6 linked regions of the Homo sapiens genome follow. The protein of the gene in region 1 purifies or fractionates together with the protein of each later gene. This does not show direct contact. Each region holds a gene or a part of one and is shown in the gene's direction. Other genes may lie near its edges. The genes, in order: IGSF3, TXK, TSPAN14, QSER1, TSPAN5 and ROBO2.

Region 1 (3,413 bases):
ATAGACTAAGCGGGTGATGCCCCAGCGGATGTTGGCCACGGAGGAGCTGAGGCTCTCCCTTTCTCTGTGATTGGACAGTTGACAGCACCCAAACTCTGGGGTGCATGTGTGTGGAAAGTTGTCAGACTTGAAAAGTGTTCCAAGTTCCCAGTCAGTCACAGAGACAGACTGCCTCTCGGTGGCAGTCTTGGTTGGTTAGCTATTTGCGCGCAAATGTTGTGATCCTGCCATTATAGATTTCTTGTTTCTGTTTTTAGTAATGTAGTGAGTAGCTCCAGGTGCCACATCTACTCACAGATTTATCTAGTATTCTCAGATAGATGTTACAGGGCTTCTTATTCTTTGTAATGTACTCTTTTTAAATCCCTTTAGTTTACCCTTTTTGGATTCCTTAATGTGGACGAATTTCTCTTACGTACAACTGACAGCAAAAGGAAGGGCGAACTTTCTAGTGACAAGGAATCTCTTCCAAGACTTTGTTTTTGCACATTTGAAAATGCCACCCATGGATCAAAATATACCCAAACGTTTTTTACTTTCTTAACAAGACTTAAGAATTGTGTGTAGTGTGGGCAAAATTTGTATGTTGTCTTTTCCCTCAGCTGGAGTTATTGGAACCACTTTGTAGTCAAGACGAAAGCACTGAATTTTGCTTCAAAGAACTGTGTATGTACAAGAGAAATCCTGCATAACCCCATTAGGAGTAGATGGTGCCCGGCCTATCTGTCAGGGAGGCAAAAAAGGCTTCATCCCATCCTTGCCAAAAAATAAGAAAACTGTCTTGGAGAATGGGTCAGAAGCCCCAAACGGCACACACTTTCCAAATTAAAGTGGGCAGGGGCTGCTTTTAGCAGCTGCTGACCTGCAGATTTGTCAAAGCCAGTGACTAGAGAAGGAAGGGAGAAAGGCTGGCTGTTGGCTTGCTCTGAGCTGCAAGGATGGTCTCTAACTGATTAACTGTGAGCAGGTGGGCCTGTGTCTTCAGGTGCTTTGCCAAACTCTTAAAAGAAAGTGTCCAGTGAACTTGGAAGTGGGCCCCTGAGCTGAGCACAGGGCCAAAGCAGCCATGGCAGACACCTGACGGAGGGCACGGGGCTGGCTGACACTAAGTTTGGTGGGACAGTGAGGGGTGGGAGGGGGGTTTCCAGGGCCTGGTGTTGGAGAGTGCAGAGAAATATCTACCTCCCTGGAGGTGTGAAGACTAGGTTTTTCTTCTTCCTTCCAATTAGATTTTCCTTAATTATAGTGATGTCTTCCTTATTCATTTTTCTCTCCCTGCCTCTCACTGCCATAAGAATATCAGCCTGGGGGCAGTCCAGACGCAGCCCTTTGTCATCCTTTCTGTTTGCCTAGTCTCAGCAGACTGTGATCACAAGGCATTGTCTGTGGGATTTTTCCTTTCCCTTTCTTGATCTCTCTTGTGGTTCTAGGTTGTTTGGTTGTTCATTGTTATGGTGGCTTTTTATTTTAACGCCCCTTGAGCCCCATGATGGCTGGTGTCACCCTGTTCTTTTACACTGTTGGGCCAGGTGCTGCTTGTCCTTCTTAGGGCATCATCAATTGCAAATATTTCCTTTTGCTCCCTTTATGAAGATGTTCTTATACCCTTGCTTTCCCATATTTTTCTGGCCAAGCATGCCATCTCCTTTACTCTGGGAACTTACATCCTGAATCCCAAGAGGGGGTCACAGTTTGGAAAAAGTCATCAGGGATTCTGGAACTAAGTCTGATAAAAGATTCCAGTGAAGCCCTGTTCTGAGAACGAGCAGACTGCAGGGGAGGCCATGGGATTCCCCAGGCCAGTGTCTGTGCTGATCCTTCAAGGGTCTGCAGGTATGCAGGTGGCCTGGGCTGCTCGGCAGATACTTTGCTGATTCCCAGCTGAGGGGAGCATGGTGGCGATTGCTCAGCCATTTTCTGACAGACACACAGACCTGCCTTTTCTCCCCCAAGTATACCGTACCCTCCTGTGAGACAGTGTGTGCAGGCACCACCACCTTAATCCTGCTGTTGCCTGACATGCTGATTCTCATTTATTATGCTGCATCAACACATTAGAGGTACAGGAGCGGCTCAGTCATGAAAAAAGAAGGTCTTTTGCCCCATTTCTTTATTTCAGAGATGTGGGCTTTCAGTGGGAATTTGCTGACTCCTACTTTATAGGCTGAGTCAATGAGGGAAGATGACTGGCGTTTCCTCTGTCTAAATGGGAGGTTGCCAGAGCGCTGGCTGGGACTAGGATGTGTAACTAAGATTTCAGTTTGAAATCTTAGATTTCAGTTCACGGCGATAAAGAAGTAGGTGCTGCACACAAATATGTAAAGCAATTGTAGGAAATTTGAAAGGAAAAAAAGAAACCGAAGCCAGTATTTTAATAATTGCTTTTTCTGTGTATTTTGTATTGGGCTGGGGGATAGCATCAAAGGTTGAACTTTTTGAGCTTTCTATGAAAAACCCCAGGACCTTCTTTCTTTGGCCATTTCTATGGAAATGCGATGTCAGATGGATGGTAATGGTGCCCTCCAGTGGCTGTGAGACCTCATTGCGCATTGTCTACTGGAGCTTTAGTCTTCTGAGACGGAGGAAAACTGCTGAATACTCTGGATTCATCTATGTCTACAATGTTGCATTTATGAAAAACTACACTGTGCTAGGCGCATTCTAGGACATGAATATGACCACACCCTCTTTCACCGGGTGTTTCTGTAGCAAGTTTTCATATTCTTTTCAAACAATGGTTTCTCTGCGTTAATTATTGAGGAAAAAAAAAGATGGGGTAAGAAAACTACCCATGCATGATGTAGAGAGCTGTTGATTTGTTTCTGTTTTTTTAAAGGAAAACTATTTGTAAGATGTTGCACTAAAACATTTTATATACACTTCAGAGACCTGTAGTAAATTATGTTGAAAATACGGCTGTTTACATTTACTGCAGTCTTCTATCCTTCTTTCCCCTTACTAACCAGCCCCCTTCCTCTGTGGAACTGTGCTGTGGGAGCCTACAGTTCTGCCCTTGGCATTGGCCTGCTAGGCTCAAGGTCTGTGAATTGCAGTCTTTATTATTACACCCCATAACCTTCAAATGATAAAAACACCTCTTCCTCAAGACACTTCACTGCCATCTGCTGCAACATATAGTAAATAGACACCTCCACCCCGATGATCAAGGCTATGCTACCTCTAGAGCTGTGCAACACACAACACACCTAGCCCCTGAAAGCCAGGTTCAGAATGTAGATCTTATAACCTGTAGCGTTTTTGTTGGGGGGTGGGGTGGGGGTAGAAGCCGGATGAGAAGGAGAGCAGGAACACAGGATGGCCTTCTCTAGGGCCTCTGCGGCAAGTCCACACCATCCTTTTCCAACTATGAAGTGCTGCCCTGGCCATGAAATGCAGCGGGGATTTCCCAGAAT
Region 2 (3,500 bases), on another chromosome or scaffold:
TGATGCGATGCCCTTTTTCTGATTTGCTGGCCTGAGGCTCATCATTAGAGATATTTACTGAGGAATGAGAAGTAGATGAAAAGAACAGCGCAGATGTAAGCCTGGGAGAGGAAGCTCAGCTCCTTCAGTGATAATCTTCAAGCCCGAATATATTCTTTCCACATTTCCTTCCAGCAGGCAAATAGTCATTGCCTATCTCTGGGGCATTTTTGTCACTCTGGCAAAGGCCCTTGATATGCATGAGTTCCTGCCTAAGTTGGGAATTTGCTAAAAGCTCAAGAGCTTTCCCTCTGCAGGTTAATCGGCAAAACAATTCAAAGAATGGCTTCTGTAATCACAGAATGCCTGTGGAAGGGCGCTGTCTATTTACTTACTGGGAACACCTGTGCTGCTGTAAATTGAAAATGATCATGAAATGAATACTCCTTGATACCTGCATTGGAATGAATTTTGGCCCAACACTTCAACCTGTAAATAAAGATGCCTGCTGTCTTGGAAAGTCATGCCAAGCAAGGGAACACCAGGGAGCTGTTTGGCTTTCATAGTGTGATTTTTCTTCTCGCAATGATTATTTATTGGGCAGCAACTCTGCTGGGCAGAGGATGGAACCACAAACAAAGCAGTGGTTTGCCTTCCTGCTCACCACTGTTCTTGGACTTTGAGGGAAATTAAATAAAATTGGGTCATAATTAAAGCAGTGGTAGGGTAGGTCTGTATCTTTCTTTAAAGGCCATTGTCTTTGCTATTGAATCAGGAAACATAAGAATTTTTGAAAATATTTTCTCCTAAATTCCAGGCTGCAGAAGACAGTGAAGACAACTAAGGGGAATATTATCAGGTGTGGCCATGTGTTGTGAGGTCAGGGAGCTGGGGGAGGCATTTCTCTAGTCCCAGATACTCCTGCCTGCTGACTGATAACAGCAATTTCTCTTTCAAAGTTCTTGACTTGGCCAGGCATGGTGGCTCCTGCCTGTAATCCCAGCAGTTTGGGAGGCCAAAGAGGGGGATCACTTGAGGTTGGGAGTTTGAGACTAGCTTGGCCAATGTGGTGAAATCCTATCTCTACTAAAAATACCAAAAAAATTAGCCGGGTATGGTGGAGTGTGCCTGTAGTCCCAGCTACTTGGGAGGCTGAGGCAGGAGAATCGCTTGAACCTGGGAGGCGGAGGTTGCAGTGAGCCGAGATCATGCCACTGCACTCCAGCCTGGATGACAGAGCAAGACTCCATCTCAAACAAAACAAAACAAACAACCACACACACACACAAAGTTGTTGACACTTGAATAAGGTGGTTCCCCAAAATGTAACTACTCATAGCCTAACATTGACCAGAAGCCTCAATAACATAAATGTTGATCAACACGTATTTTGTATGTTATGTGTATCATACACTGTATTCTTACAATAAAGTAAGCTAGAGAAAAGAAATGCTTTAAGAAAGTCATAAGGAAGAGAAAATAGATTTACTATTCATGGAGTGAAAGTGGCTCATGATAAATGCCTTCATCCTCGTCATCTTCATGTTGAATAGTCTGAGAAGGATGATGAAGAGGAGGGATTGGTCTTTCTGTCTCAGGGGTGACAGAGGCAGAAGAAAATCTTCATGTAAATGTTTATACCATGTTTTTCAAGTGTCAAACTATTTAAATTTAATGTGTTGTGATGGTTAATTTTATGGGTCAACATGGCTTGGCCATGGTGCCCAGATATTTGATCAAACATTATTCTGGATGTTTCTGTGAAGGTAATTTTTGGATGAGATTAACATTTAAATCGGTGGACTTGGAGTACAGTGGGTCACCCTCCATCATGTGAGTGGGCCTCTCCCACAGTTGAAGTCCCTAATCAATGAAAGTCAGACCTCCCCTGAGCAAGGAGGACTTTTGCCAGCAGACCGCCTTTGGGCTCAAACTGCAACTCTTCTCTCATTCTTCAGCTTGCCGGCCTGCCCTGTTAGATTTTGGACTTGCCAGTTTCCACAACTGCCTGAGCCAGTTCCTTAAAAGAAACCTCTCTCTGTGTTCACCCTGACTGTTACAAATGTCATGCTTACAAACATGTACACGCCTCTGCACTGCAGTAAGCATGACATTGCTGAAGCGCTGCAGTACAGCATGTTTACTATTTAACATTGTGTCTGTCATTTATACCTTACTGAGAAAAAGTGTGAGAGCCTCTCCTGAGGCCTGCTTTGATAGCAGGGAGAGAGAGTCTCCTGGAGTCCTGAACGGGGGAAACATCTGCCTTTGAGTCAGGGATAAAGTTGGCTCAGAAGAGAGGAGTTGGAGCTGAAGATTCGCTTTCGTTTACTAAGCCTTCTTCCTCCATTTTGTCTTCAGAGGGAAAACCACACCTGCTCCTATTTGGTTACCTTAAATGTATTTTGTGAGTACCCAATAAATAGTTGCTGAATGAGTTCTAGGGAACTGGGGGATGGGGACAAAGTGGTAAAGTAACTGAGAGTAGCTGGTATGTTCTAGCCATGTTTGCCTCTGCAATCTTATTTAATCTTCTCATCCACAAGGATAGTCCTATTGTGATGCTCATGGACTCTGGGTTTGACTTCTGGCTCAGCTGCTTTTTATGTGACTGGATAAATGGCTGAAGCTCTCTGTTCCTCTGTTTCTTTATGTGTAAGATGGGGATCATAATGTTAGTATAGTGAGTAAGTTAGCATGGCGTAGTATAGTAAGATCTAAGTATCTGTCATGCCTGGCATATGGTAAGGGCTGTGTTGGTAGAAGTGGGGAAACCCTTTCTTAGAAGACAACTTTTATTACCTACGTTTTCTAGATTTGATTGCCCAAAATCACATTGTTGCTCCAAGAAAAGGGAACAGTGATTTGAGTGCATGTCTGCCTGATACTAAAGCCTGCTGAACCCCATATGTTCTTTTAATACAGAAAAGAAAAAACAAACACATTTGAATGCCAGAGAGTTTTTAATAATTTCATTTGGCATCTCATGGTTTGGTACTTTATTTTGGATAAGCATTTGTTTAAAAATATATGTCTGGAATAAAAGGTTAGACTTATGAGCCCCCACAAATGCTGGCTAAAGCTCCGGAAGCTCAGTCTTCACCTTTGCCGTTCCACTCAGTCAAAAGGTCACGGTCAGCTTAGCTTTCTCTGTGGCCAGCATCACACTGTGAAATACTGGGTGATAAGATGAATGAGTGGAAAAAAAGAAGAGCTCAGATGTAATGTAAGGGTGTTGATATTGGTGGGGTCTTATTTAACAGTTATTTATTGAGCTTTTGTTATGTGCCAGGCACTGATGCTAGAAGCTAGGGAGAAGACAGAAAAAAAAAATTAAAAATAAAAAAAAAAGGATAAGATGCAGTCCCTGAGATTGAGAAGCTTACAATCTGGTCCAGTGTCTCCACTGGGGTTGATTTTGCCCCCAGGGAACATTTGGCAATGCCTGGAAACACTTGGGTTTCCACAATTGGAAGGTGGTGGTGGTGTGGGTGTTAGAAGGGAGGGGGTTATGTTGCTGC
Region 3 (3,500 bases), on another chromosome or scaffold:
CTGAAGCTGAGCTCCTGCTGCAATTTGTGTTCCCTGCTCTCCCTGTCCTGGGCAAACCAGTCTGACAACTTTGTGGTTCTCGCTCCCGCCTCCATCAGCCTGGGGATTGACTGTCCCATTTGTCTGAGCTGGGCAGAGGGAGGTGCTGTGGGGGATCTCTTCCTCTTGCCTGGACTGCACACTCCTGCTGCCTTCTAGCCGGAGCTCCTGGGCATTTTGCCTATGGGAGCTTCACCAGCTTCCTTCTGTCTGAGGCCTACAAGTCCCTGCCTCCAGCCTACCTTGTTCCTCCTCCATGAGTGAGGCTCCTCCTTTTCTCTCTGGCCCTCCTGTCTACTTGATCAGACTCTGCCTCTCTTGAGGGCCGGCTCCCTCCAGCCTACCCTGCACAGGTGACCCTGTTTGGCCTGCCTCCTTTTCTTGAGGCTGATCTTGTCTCAACAGTCAGCTTTTCAGGAACCAGGCCCTTGCTGTTGTAAGGAAAACCTGTCGGCTGTGGATGGGGCCTTCCCTCCTTCCTAAAGGCTCTGTAGCCAGCTTCCACCCTTGCAGTGGAACAGTGGTGGTGCCAGAACCCTGCTCTCTGCAGCCATCCTGCCTACCACAGTCATTGTGTTTTGTAACTCTAGTAGCTTCTTGTGAAATACAAGTGATGGTATAAACGTGGATAGGTTTTTGAGGGGGGCATGCCAAAATCAGAGTTGGTGGTAGTGGTGGGGGATTCATTCCCAAGGGCTCTGGGGTGCTAAGTGTGTGAGCAAAGAGGAACAAGTGGCATGTGCCCAGGATGGGGTGGGGCGGGCAGGTTTAGTTGAGGGCTCCTCTGGTGTAGGGTAGCCCTGACGCTCCCCTCCATGGCATGACTGATGAGGTGGCAAAGGCAGGTGCCAGGATTTGGTGTGTTGAAGATTAGTGCCTGGGTTGGGCTCTGCTCACTCCTGCAGAAAGACGGTTGGAGAGGGGCTGGTCTTGGTTTCACAGAGGATTGTGGGATTACAGGCAAGACCTGCTGAGGGCTTGCACTGAGCCACCGAGAGGAGCAGAAAGAGATACGAGGGCTTCAGGTGCCAGTATGGTTCTCACTGTTGTGAGATCTCATTTGTGCCTTTTTTTTTTTTCCTTCAGACAGGGTCTCACTCTGTTGCCCAGGCTGGAGTGCAGTGGCCCTATCACAGCTCACTGAGGCCTCCACCTTCCTGGCTCAAGTGATCCTCCCGCCTCAGCCTCCTGAGTAGCAGGGACCACAGGCATGCAGCACCACACCCAGCTAATTTAAAGAATTTTTTGTAGAGATTGGATCTTGCTATGTTGCCTAGGCTGGTGTCAAACTCCTGGGCACTTGATTTGTGCTTCTTAATTCAGGGGCTACTTATTGAACATATTTAGCAGTCTTCAGAAAGCATCTTATTCTGTAAGGGGAACCAAATATACCCATTCCCCCTCTCTGGCCTTCTTTCCCTGTGGTCTGGGCGGTCTTTGAGCTTGAGGTCATTAGGAGGTGTTTATTTCTGTCCGCCCTGGTGGCCTAGGGCGTAGGAATGGGGTGGGATGGGATGGGATGGGGTGGGGTGGGGTGGAGGAGTTATTCTACATAGATAGAGTTCTGTTTATGCAGCACTCCCTGCCATACACATCTCTCACTCAAATGGTCTGGCCAGTCCTGGTTCTAATGGTCATTGTGTCATTCCCCTCAGCAGCAGGAAAGGCTGGAATGGTTTTTGTATTGTTCCTTAGGGGGAAAAATCACTTGGAGGAAGTATATCAGTGCTTCTGAGTGCAGAGTATTTATTGACACGTCAGTTAAAGGAAGCTTTTAAACAACATATATGTATCTCTTTAGTGAGGAATAAATCTACAAGTGCATCTCACAGCTCCATTTTGCAGCTTCCATTTCCTGGAAGGTACATGGAGTTTAGTGGTTAGGGAATGGGGTTTTGAGCTGGGATTTTGGAGAAACTGTTTTTAGCCTGTCCTTGGAATTGGGCCAGGCCTAGAAATCTGTTGAAATAGCTTTCTTTAGTTGCTGAAACTGGGATGTGTTCATAGCACTAGGACCTCGAGCTCCACTGATGACTGAGTGGGGAGGGCTCAGAGAAGGGTCCCTGTGGATGCCCGGGATGCCTGGGTTTCAGTCCCGTCTCCTGCATCGCCTACATTGCCTGAATCTTAGGGTCTTACAGATTTATCATGAAGTGGGCTTGGCAGCAGATGGTCTGGTTTCTTTTGTGCCTTTGTCAGAATCTGTTCTTGCTCTTCTTAGGAAAACTTTCTATTTCAGGACTTGGGGTGGAGTCGAAAGCAGGGAGCCCTGTGAGTTGGTGAGTCTGTATCCCTGAGGCTGCCACTGCCTGACCCCCTCCTTCCCCTTGTTTCGTTTCCCCTCCCCATTACTCTGCCTTGTTCTAGGGAAACACCAGAAGCTGCCTGCAGACAGCTACGGGTAAAATTGTGTGTCCAGCCACAAACTTTAGGCATTTTAAATATTAATTTAGGTTTAACATTTTTATTTACAAAAATGTATACATGATGAAAAACACATAACAAAGATACACGGTGAAAACTCCTATTTCTATCCCTGACCCCTTCAGTTCTGCTCCCCTGAGGCCGCTGTCACCAGATGTTCAGTGCCTAGTCAAGCATGACTGTATTCCTCTCTTGTTTATTACCCCAGTGGTATACTAATTATGCTGTTTTGCACTTCCTGATTTTTACTCTGAGAATTTATCCCAGGATTGTTCCATTTTAGCACACATAGTTTAGTCCATTCTTTTTAACAGCAGTGCATGATTCTGCTGCACAGTGAATGATGACTCACTTTACCAGCTCTCTATTGATGGATTTTGAGGTTGCTTTCAGTGTTTTGTTTCTATAGGCTAAGCTGCAGGAGTGTCTTATGCATGCTGCAGGTCTGTAGTGGAAATGACTAGATGTGGAGTTACTGCATTAGGTGTGTAAAAGGAAAAGAAACATGCGGCTTTGATTCCGAAAGGGGGAATGAAAGTTTACAAAGTTTTCTTTTGGAGGGATCTTGGCCTTCTACAGAGACAAGAGCTGGAGAAACTACTGGGAAGGCATGAGAGGTGCCAGCGTGTTGGTTCCCACCCAAGTCCATCTTTGGTTCAGTTCAGGCCAGCCTGTCTCCGTGACCTCCATATTTACAGCCCTTGGCTGGCCCTCTGGCTCATGCAGCCTGTGCCCCTAAAAGTGTGAGGAGTCAGCCAGAGCGAGTTGGGGTGTAGGGAGGCGGGGAGCAGGCTTCTCATAGTGGGTTCCAGCAACCTCACGACTTTGCAGGACCTATGTGGGGTGTGAAGGGGGAGCGTTGGTTGCAGCAAGCTGGAGCTGGCGTCAGCTTTTAGAGGAGCAGATTTTCCCGCAGTGTCAGGGGTTGGTGTGAGGATCGGCCTCCTTCTCTGGCCTCCCTTGGCCTTTCGCTGCTCTGCACACCTCCCTGTTCAGGCCGCCTTGGGCCTGGTTGCCACCCTGTGATTTTAAAAGCC
Region 4 (3,500 bases), on another chromosome or scaffold:
ATTCCCCCTCTACCCTGTAGTTGGGACCAAGATGAAGGGTAAGTTTGTGATTATCTTTGGTTAGCAGGGTGGGGATATGGGCTACTACTTGTTTCTTCCTTTCCTTGGTATGTTCTCTGGAACAATGAGTACTAAAGTATGTCTACCAAAACACAGTTTTCTTTTATTCATTAAACAAATATTTGAGTACCTGCAATTGTTAAGGCAGTGTTACCTGTATCTCCTTGAGTTATATTTCTGCAGTGAAAGCTTGAGAAATCAAGTGACAAGCATGCAATCACTCATTAAAATGTAGTGGCCATCTCTCAGTTTCTGTTTCTCAGCTGAGTTCTGCAGGGTGCCACAAAAATGAAAAAAAAAACACTGTCTTGCCTCTGAAAGAACTTGTGATCTGGAGGGTGAGAGGGTAATGCACTTGCTTCCTCTCTGCTTGGCTTCTAAATGTTGAAGTGCTCAGAAACTTGGAGTTCTGTCCTTTTTTCTTTTCTCTCCACTGACCCTAGGTGTAGTTGCCATATATGTGAGATGACTTTCAAATTTACATCTCTGGATTCATATCTAGCATCTGACATCTTCATTTGAATATTGAATAGGTATTTCCAAAATGACATATCCAAAACATGATTGTCACCCTCTCAACCTGGGCCTCCTCTAGCCTTCCCCACCTCAGTAATTATTATCACCATTTACTCCATTGCTTATGTCCAGAAGGTTAGAGCCATCCATGATTCATTTCATTCCTTCCCATATTGAGTCCCTCAGCAAATCCTGTTGGTTCAATCTCCATATCCATAATTTCCTGCATGGATAATTGCAGTTGCCTCCTGTTGCTTTTCTTGCCTCCTTTTAGGCCTTCTGTAATTTATTAAGTATGCAACAGCCAGAATTAACTTTTCAAAAGTATAGGTCAGGTAATGTCATTACCCTGCTTAGAACCTTCCAGTGTTAATCAGTAAAATCCAATGACTTGGTCAGGTGTGGTGACTCATACCTGTAATCCCAGCACTTTGGGAGACTGAGGCAGGATCACTTGAGGCCAGGAGTTCAAAACCAGCCTGGCCAACATGGCAAAACCCTGTCTCTACTAAAAATACAAAAATCAGCTGGGCATGGTGGCAGGTGCCTGTAGTCCCAGCTACTCGGGAGGCTGAGGCAGGAGAATAGCTGGAACTCAGGAGGCGGAGACTGCAGTGAGCTGAGATCACACCACTGCACTCCAGCCTAGGTGACAGAGCAAGACTCCATCTTAAAAAAAAAAAAATCGAATGACTTATCGTGGCCTACAAAGCCCTGCATGATCTAAGCCTCAGCTAATTTCTCCAACCTCATGTCATTCCCCTCCCACCACCATCCTTCAGCCATACTGGCTTTACTTCTGTTCCTGAAACATGCTAAGATTATTTGTGTCTTAGGACTTTTGCACCGGCTATTCTCTTTAACTGAAGTTTTCTTTGCAGGTCTTTGCTTTGCTGCTTCTGCTTTTGCTGATTGTTAGGTCTTTCCCCACATGTTACCTTCTCAGAAAGGCCTTCTCTGACTGCCCTGTCTAAAGTAACTGCACATCACTGACACATGACAGTTTTACCTCTTCAGAGCATTCTCACTCTCTGGAGTAATTTTGTTGATTTATATGTATCGTTTATTACCACCCTTTCCCGATACCACTAACCATCACTGATAGAATGCATGTTCCATGAGAACAGGGCTCTTTGTCTTGTTCACATCTGTACAAGGCAGGTTAGTATAGTAGTTGATAGCATAAGCTCTGGAGTTATAATGTTTGAGTTTGTATTTTGACTCCACCACTTGCAGTATGATCTTAGACAAGTTTCTTAACCTCTCTGTGCCTCAGTTTCCTTATGTAAAATGAGGACACTTAGAATTCTTGAAGATTAAATGGAAAAACTTAGAAAAGTATTTAGAGTGATGTCTAGCATATAGGATAGCATATAGATTATTAACTTTATTGTCAGCACTGAGAAAAATGTCTGATGCATTGTGCCATTAAACATTCAATGAATGAATGAAATAACTGCTATTAATACTTGCCAGACTATTCCAGAGGTACAAAAATAATTCAGGGACTTAGTGGGGAAAATTATATTGAGTTCAAGGGGATCATGGTAGCATTTGTCAAGTAGATTGCATACAAACTGATCTGAATTATTGCTAATGTTGCATAGTGGAATAAGGGATTAGTACAAAGAAGGAGCTCCTAAGAATAAGTGTTCTAAGAGGGAGGAAATGGAATCTGCTAGGCCAGTTAAGGGCTGGGCCTTGAACTGGCACAGCATCACTTCTGCCAGTCTGTTGGTCAAAGCAGTCCCTGGTCCATTGCAGAATTGTCATGGGAGGGAAACTACACAAAGGTGTGGTTCATTGGGGAGCTCACCAGAGTAACACTGTACCACAGAGCGTTGGTACTAGATTTTAGAGGGCTTCTGATGACAGATCATGGAGTTTAGTCTCTCCACTCTAAAGGATAGGGAATGGCCAGGCGTGGTGGCTTGTGCCCATAATCCCAGCACTTTGGGATGCTGAGATGGGCTGATGGCTTGAGCTCAGGAGTTTGAGACCAGCCTGGGCAACATGGTGAAACCCCGTCTCCACAAAAATACAAAAATTAGCCTGGCATGGTGGCATGCGCCTGTGGTCCCAGCTACTTAGAAGGCTGAGGTGGGAGGATCGCTTGAGCCTGGGAGGTGGAGGCTGCAGTCAGCCATGATTGTGCCACTGCACTCCAGTGTGGGCATAGGGAGTGAGACCTGTCTCAAAAACACAACAAAAAAATCCACATAAAATCTCTGTTCTTGTGGAGTTTACATTCTTGGGTGAAGGAGTCGGGCAGGCAAATTATTGAGAAAATTTTCTCCTAGAGGAAGTGCACTTCCCTGAGATCTGAGGAAGCAGCAAGTGCAAATGTCGCAAGGCAGGAACAAGCCTGGCAGTTCCCTTCCCTGGCAGGATCTTGCTGTAGCTCAGTGGTACTTCAGAACCACCCAGAGGGCTTGTTGAAACACAGGTTGCTGGGCCCAACTCCAGAGTTTCTGAATCCATAGGTCTTGGGTGGAGCTCAAGAATTTGCATTTCTAACAAGTTTGTAGGTGATTCTTATGCTGCTTGTCCAGTGAGGAGATTTTGAGAACCACTGACCTGGATCTTGTCAGTGTTGGCTTCTTGACATTCTTATCTCCTTAAATATCATCTCTTCGCAAAGAACTTCCTTGAGCACCAGATCTAAAGTCCCACCAGGTTTCCTTTGTTCCAACGCTTCTGTTTTCCCCAAAGTATTTTTCCTTAGCTGACAAGACCAGACAGGTGAGTTTAGGAGTCTGACTGGACATGTGTATAGAGACAATAGTGGAATCTCAGAGATTAAGGTCTTTGAGGGTGAAGAATGAAGGGCTGAGAACTGAGCCTTTGCCATTGTAGGTGATAGTGTCTATTACATGCCTACTATGTGCTGAGCACTGGCCTAATAATTTTATAGTGTTATCTCA
Region 5 (3,500 bases), on another chromosome or scaffold:
ATGCTTCCCCTTTCACCTACAGATCCTCTGGGCAGAGCTAGCTCATTCCTTGCGCTCTAAGCTAATAAAATCTGCCCCACACCCCGCAGAGAAGGAAAATAAACAACCCGAAAAAGTGGAACCATGTTTCTGATCAGACCCTGTGAGACGTCAGGTTGTCTGTGTGATTATGTGGTCGGGGCATTGTTTTGTTTTTTAATTATTAAAAGCTCATTGAAAAACAATTTAAGTAACATGGAAGTACATAGATTAAAAAGTAGCAGTCCATCCAAAAGAGCATACATGAAGATTCACTGTGCCCTTTATGTTTTTTATCTGTGTCTCCAGTTCCCTAAATCCCATAAGCTTCTTGAGGTTGGCACCACTTTGAATCTTGAGCCTCCTGTGTGATAGACTTGCTGTCTTTTCTGATATTCCCCAAGCCTTAGTTTTCCTTATTTGTAAAATAGGGCATATTTTAATACCTACTTCTGAAGATTGTCGCAATAATGACATGGGATCATGTATATAAAGTGTTTAACATAGTGCTGCAGTCTTTGTGCCCAGATACACATTTTATTACTAATGCGTAACAGAAGTCTTCTGCTCATTTCTAGGTGGGCTTTCTGTCTAATGAGTAAATTTCACTTTTCTCTTTCCTTTCTTCACCAGGAAGATGTCATCAACACTCAGTGTGGCTATGATGCCAGGCAAAAACCAGTAAGTGGAATCTCATGTTGTTGCTTAGCACGAAGGGTGTTGGAGGAGCTTTGGCCTGTGCCTGGTGCTCTATCTGTGACAATGTGCTCTCCTCTTCTCTTGTGAAGGAAGTTGACCAGCAGATTGTAATCTACACGAAAGGCTGTGTGCCCCAGTTTGAGAAGTGGTTGCAGGACAATTTAACCATCGTTGCTGGTATTTTCATAGGCATTGCATTGCTGCAGGTAAGATAAGGGTCCTTTATGGATATCACAGGGAAATAATGCCCTGGGAGAGCCCTTGCCAGGATCGGAGCTTTGCTTAAAAACCTTGATTGTCATAGTTTTTAAGACACATTGGAGGGCTGAGGAACAGACCTAAACGATTTGGTTTGTGTTTTATTTTATTCATTTATTTATTTATTTTATTTATTAATTTTTTTTTGAGATGGAGTCTTGCTCTGTCGCCCAGGCTAGAGTGCAGTGGCATGATCTTGGCTCACTGAAAGCTCCGCCTCTTGGGTTCATGCCATTCTCCTGCCTCAGCCTCCCGAGTAGCTGGGACTACAGGTGCCCGCCACTACGCCCGGCTAATTTTTTTGTATTTTTAATAGAGACGGGGTTTCACCGTGTTAGCTAGGATGGTCTCGATCTCCTGACCTCGTGATCCGCCCATCTCGGCCTCCCAAAGTGCTGGGATTACAGGAGTGATCCACCGTGCCTGGCCTGATTTGTGTTTTATTAAAGCTCTGAGTTTAGATGCTACTATCATGAAATACTTTAGGAAACCTTGTCTTTTTCTAAGATGGAGACATTAATTAGATAGTGGTTGCCTACTGGCATTCCATCGTTTACATGGGCTCAAAAATACTGCATTGTGGCAACTGAGTCAAACATGCATAGTTAGAAGTAGATCTCAGTGGTGACGTTAAGGTTTTGGGAAGTTTCACAGAGATGTCATACCCCTTTCTCTCCCTAAACTACCTTGCCAAAGTGCTAGTGAAGGAAGGGAGCACCCACTTTTCCTCCTGGCCAGTCTTAAGAGCTGGACTCTTCATGTTGTTGGTGTGATACTTTCCAAAGAGCACATAGTTGAAACAAATTAAAGAAGACCTAAGTAAATATAAAGATATCCTGTGTTCACAATTGCAAAACTTCATATTATTAAGGTAACAACACTCATCAAGTTGATCTACAGATTCAGTGTAATCCCTATCAAAATTGTAACCACCTTTTTAGCAAAAATGGACAAGCTGATCCTAAAATTCATATGGAAAAGCAAGGGACCCATAATAGCCAAAACAAATTTGCAAAAGTAAAACAAAGTTGGAGAATTCACACTACCCAGTTCAAAACTTAGTACAAAGCTATATAGTAATCAACATAGTGTGTACTTGAGTAAGATTAGCCATATAGAGAAGTGGAATAAAATTGAAAAATCAAGAAATAAAACCAGGCCAGGTGTGGTAGCTCATGGATGTAATCCCAGCACTTTGAGAGACCAAGGCAGGAGGATGGCTTGAGCCCAGGAGTTCAAGACCAGCCTGAGCAACATAGCAAGTCCTTGTCTCTACAAAAAGTAAAAATAAAAAAATTAGCCAAATGTAATGGCACATGCCTGTGGTCCTAGCTACTCAGCAGGCTGAAGTGGGAGGATTGCTTGAGCCCAGAAGGTTGAAGCTGCAGTGAGTCGTGATTATGCAACTGCACTCTAACCTGGGTGACAGAGCAAGACCTTGTCTCAAAAAAATAAGAAAAAAATATATATGATTAAAAAGAAGAAATAAGGCCGGGTGCAGTGGCTCATGCCTGTAATTCCAGAACTTTGGGAGGCTGAGTCAGGTGGATCACTTGAGCTCAGGAGTTTCAAAACAGCCTGGGCAACATGACAAAACCCTGTCTCTACAAAATATACAAAAGTTAGCTGGGCATGATGGCGCATGCCTGTGGTCCCAGCTACTTGGGGGGCTGAGGAGGGAGGATCACTTGAGCCTGGGAGGTTGCAGTGAGCTGAGATCATGCCATTGCACTCCAGCCTGGGTGACAGAGCAAGATCCTATCTCAAAAAAGAAGATGAAATAAGCTCGTACGTATATGGTCAGTTGATTTTTGACAAGGGAACCAAAACCATTCAATAGGGAAAGAGCAGTCATTTCAACAAATGGTACTGGGAAAACTAGATATGCAAAATAATGAATTTAGACTAACTCACACCATATGTAAAAATTAACTCAAAATAAAGCAAAGACCTAAATATAAGAGCTAATGCTATAGAACTCCAGAAGAAAACATAGGCATAAATATTTGTGACTTTGGATTAAGCAGTGTCTTCTTAGATATGACATCAAAAGCATAAGCAATGAAACAAATGTAAATAAATTGGACTTCAAAATTTAAAACTGTGCTGAAAATGATACCATCAAGACAGTGAAAAGATAACTCCTAGTATCTAGAAAAATAAAGAACTTTAAAAAGTCAACAATAAAAAGACAAACAACTTAAAAATGGGCAGCCAGGCATGGTGACTTGTCCCTGTAATCCCAGCTGCTTGGGAAGCAGAGGCAGGAGCCTGCACTGAGCTATGATCACGCCACTGTACTCCAGCCTGGGCAACAGAGCAAAACCCAGTCCCTTAAATTATTAAAAAACAAACAAACAAACAAAAATACGGGCAGAGGATCTGAACAGACATTTCTCTAAAGATTAAAATTGCTAATAAAGGCCGAGGCGGGTGGATCATGAGGTCAGGAGATCGAGACCATCCTGGCTAACAAGGTGAAACCCCGTCTCTACTAAAAATACAAAAAATTAGCCGGGCGCGGT
Region 6 (3,500 bases), on another chromosome or scaffold:
TTAGATAATCAATCAGCGATATTGGCATGTAATGGTGCACAAGTATGAACAGGAGAAGGAAGCAGTTAAATCTACAAGCACTAAATTCATTAATTGTCTTTAATTAGCAATTTGGTTTTTCCACATGAGTAAGTTTGTTGGGAAGTTATTGCCTCTTGTAACTGTGGGGTAACAATTAGCTAAAAAGGTCTTTTAAGAATAAATTGAGATATTGAGATAACAGATGTAATTACAATTAGAAATTAAGATAACAGCCAGGTGATTTACTGTGGTGACACCAACAGCTTCAGGAAGAAATAAACCGAGAGAACATTTCAGATACCATGTGGTTGCTACTTATTGCCAGTATAATTGTGTGCATGTATGTGTATATGTATTTGTGTCAATGTGCATATTTTTCTCATTTAATTTCAGCTATGACAGTGATAGCTGGTGCCCACCATTGCCAGTACAAACTTACTTACACCAAGGTCTGGAAGATGAACTGGAAGAAGATGATGATAGGGTCCCAACACCTCCTGTTCGAGGCGTGGCTTCTTCTCCTGCTATCTCCTTTGGACAGCAGTCCACTGCAACTCTTACTCCATCCCCACGGGAAGAGATGCAACCCATGCTGCAGGCTCACCTGGATGAGTTGACAAGAGCCTATCAGTTTGATATAGCAAAACAAACATGGTAAATATCTTCATTAAGTCAAGAGACCCATGCTTTCAACACATGGAAATTTTTTTCAGAATAAATTCACAAGAGATTCTGATAGAACTACACAGCTAGGGTTAAAAGTGATTTTGTATGACTCCTTAATCATTTAGATAAATGTATCCACTGAGAAATGTTAAATAATTTGGCCAAAACTAGAACTAGAACTAGAACTAGAACTGGAACTGGAGCTGTAACTGTAACTGTAACTAGAACTAGAACTAAAACTAGAACTAGAGCAAGAATTCAAATCTGCTGTATTTCAGGCTAAAGTGCTCTTGGCTACACCAGAATCTTTTCTAATTTATGGTTTATCTTCAATTAGCTTATCATTGAACTCACATCCCATGATGTAATAAAAGACTCCTTTTAGATTCCTCAAAGTGCCTGTGATTAATTCTGTATGTGGTTGTCAATATGTAAATGTGAGCTTCTGCAAATCACATATGGTCAGTATTAGTTATTAAAAGACTCTCTTTACCTGAGTTAAGTGCAACAGAAAAAAAAAGACAATACTAGTATCAGTAAGTGCATAAAAAGCAGGAGTAAATCAAAAATTTCACATTTCTTTTTCTAATCTATAAACTTTTGTAAACTACAGGTGTCAGTTTACCTAGGTATCCTGTGGAATTAACACAGATATATAAATGGGACTAACGCTAACAGTTTTATACAGGATTTTTGTTATTCAATCTTTCTATTTTAATTTTCAAAAGCCCAGGCTTTTATATCACTATTTTAAAGCTCCATGTCATACTCCAATTTTCTTCTGTTGATTTACCCTTTGTGCTTGAAGTCTGAGTAAATTTTTTAAATAGTATTTGTTTTGTTTTTTAAATTGTTCTAGTCATGGGGATAAATAATTCTTATTCTCATTATTAATGAAGTATGTATTATTAAAATACAGCTAACTATACATAGAAAGAGATACCAAAAGGAAGAGTATTACTTAAAGATTATTACAAACAGCCTCTTTTCTTAAGATATTCTTGAACATTTTCCAACAGTCATCAGATGCTTTCTCAAAGGTCAAAGACAACTTACCGTTAAACGCTGTTATTTTTCATCAATCTGCTTTTAATAAAACATCACTATGTAAGTTGAAGCCAGCTGCTTCAAGAGCCACAGGGCTTCCTTCACGTTAACTAATGAAGCAATGCAGTTTGGTCATCTAAAGCACAGACTCAAGCTGAAGGGTTCTCAAATTTGCCACATTTTAGAACCATTTGGATAACCTTAAAATATATTGGTACCTGGGCTCCACTCCCAGAGAAAGATTCTGACTGCCATGATCTGGAATTTGATCCAGATCATGGGACAGCCAAGGTTGGGACCACTGCCGTGGAGATGAACCTGTCTTACTAGCTGCATGACTTTGGGCAACTTGCTCAACATTTATATGCTATAGTTTCCCCATGTGTAAAATGATGGTGATGATAATAGTAATTAGCTCATATAGGAAATTAGAGGGCAGTCCCCAAGACAACCTATATTTCTGATACCAAGTACAAGTTTCAAGGGTCCCCAAGACCACCCTGAAGTTTCAGAATTCTCTATAGTAAGTCATAGAACTCACCAAAAGATTTTACACTCAAAGCTACAGTCTATTACAGTGAAAAGATACGCATTAAAATCAGCCAAAAGAAGAAATGCATGGGACAAGGTCCAGGAAAATTCCAAAAGTAGAGCTTCCAGTTGTCCTCTCAGTGGAATCATAGCGTTACTTTCCCAACAAAGGGTGTGACATTACACACCATGGAGAATTGCCAGCCAGGGATGGGCACACCTTCCTTGAGGTCCTGCGACTTCATTTTGGCTCTGTCACACAGACATTGTTGACTACCCATATGGCTGACCTCAATTTCCAGCCCCTCCAGAGGCTGAGGTGACACCATGCAACTCCAAGCCCCCCCATAATCATATTGCGATGCTTTTTGGAGTAGCCTAAGGCCTCTAGGTAAGCAGAGAGACTTTTATCCACAGGACATTCTAAGGGCTTACAGATTACCTCCCAGGAGTAGAGGGCAAAGGCCTAACCTCTCTTGGGTCGAGGTTCAATTCTTTGTTACATATCCTAGTTTTTGTGAGAATGAAATGAGTATGAACTTATATACTACTGTCCCTGGCTGTATATTAGCTGTTATTAGTTAGAAAGGCCTAGGTTTTCACCCCTGAGTTGTTCACTTCTGTCTTCCCACACTTAGAAGAGTGTCCCACTTAGTAAATGCTTGATAGATATTTGGTAAAAGAATGAACAAATTAGTTCATCTCCACCTGCTGCAAATACCCATAGAGGACACCCTGTTTCTTCTTCTGAGTGTGTTCCTACTCAACCAGCAATCTTTCAGAATGCCTTGGCTGACTCCACATCTGGGAGTTATGAGCTTGCATGTGCTTCTGGTTTGGAAGTGACTCACCATCTGGGTAGCACATCAACATCATAGGACTGTTTAACAAATAATAATTCCCAGGCTCCACCTCCCAGGATCTGTTTCTATTGATTCGTGAAGTAAACAGCACAGTGCCTGTCACTAGAAGATATTTATAAATGTTATGTGTCCTCTTCCTGTATTTCAATTTACCTCTTAATTTTGCTTAAATAGGAGTACATTTTTTATTCCATCAAGGTATATTTGTTTTATCAAGAGGTATCAATTCATAAGCATATTGATGGCAACATTTATAGCAAGATGTGCTCATCTATCCTCAAGCTTTTCTGTACTAATACTTAGGAAACTTGCTATTTCTTCCTATTTTTCAACTAGCAGGCTGTGAGGAATGCTGAATACTAACTTGGGGCC

What was found.
Region 2: the proteins of IGSF3 (region 1) and TXK fractionate together in Homo sapiens (co-fractionation; one large-scale study listed by BioGRID). This does not show direct contact.
Region 3: the proteins of IGSF3 (region 1) and TSPAN14 purify together in Homo sapiens (co-immunoprecipitation; one large-scale study listed by IntAct). This does not show direct contact.
Region 4: the proteins of IGSF3 (region 1) and QSER1 fractionate together in Homo sapiens (co-fractionation; one large-scale study listed by BioGRID). This does not show direct contact.
Region 5: the proteins of IGSF3 (region 1) and TSPAN5 purify together in Homo sapiens (co-immunoprecipitation; one large-scale study listed by IntAct). This does not show direct contact.
Region 6: the proteins of IGSF3 (region 1) and ROBO2 fractionate together in Homo sapiens (co-fractionation; one large-scale study listed by BioGRID). This does not show direct contact.

The regions. Positions count from the first base shown.
Region 1 is NC_000001.11:116,573,908-116,577,320, reverse strand, and holds the end of IGSF3 (immunoglobulin superfamily member 3 isoform 2 precursor), read left to right. Parts: coding exon 1-9; 3' UTR 10-2,913; downstream 2,914-3,413.
Region 2 is NC_000004.12:48,124,251-48,127,750, reverse strand, and holds part of TXK (tyrosine-protein kinase TXK), read left to right. Parts: intron 1-3,500. UniProt on the Homo sapiens protein: Non-receptor tyrosine kinase that plays a redundant role with ITK in regulation of the adaptive immune response. Regulates the development, function and differentiation of conventional T-cells and nonconventional NKT-cells.
Region 3 is NC_000010.11:80,460,810-80,464,309, forward strand, and holds part of TSPAN14 (tetraspanin-14), read left to right. Parts: intron 1-2,278; exon of another isoform or gene 2,279-2,318; intron 2,319-3,500. UniProt on the Homo sapiens protein: Part of TspanC8 subgroup, composed of 6 members that interact with the transmembrane metalloprotease ADAM10.
Region 4 is NC_000011.10:32,899,311-32,902,810, forward strand, and holds part of QSER1 (glutamine and serine-rich protein 1), read left to right. Parts: intron 1-3,500. UniProt on the Homo sapiens protein: Plays an essential role in the protection and maintenance of transcriptional and developmental programs.
Region 5 is NC_000004.12:98,473,612-98,477,111, reverse strand, and holds part of TSPAN5 (tetraspanin-5), read left to right. Parts: intron 1-651; coding exon 652-699; intron 700-806; coding exon 807-923; intron 924-3,500. UniProt on the Homo sapiens protein: Part of TspanC8 subgroup, composed of 6 members that interact with the transmembrane metalloprotease ADAM10.
Region 6 is NC_000003.12:77,617,099-77,620,598, forward strand, and holds part of ROBO2 (roundabout homolog 2 isoform 23 precursor), read left to right. Parts: intron 1-414; coding exon 415-675; intron 676-3,500. UniProt on the Homo sapiens protein: Receptor for SLIT2, and probably SLIT1, which are thought to act as molecular guidance cue in cellular migration, including axonal navigation at the ventral midline of the neural tube and projection of axons to different regions during neuronal development.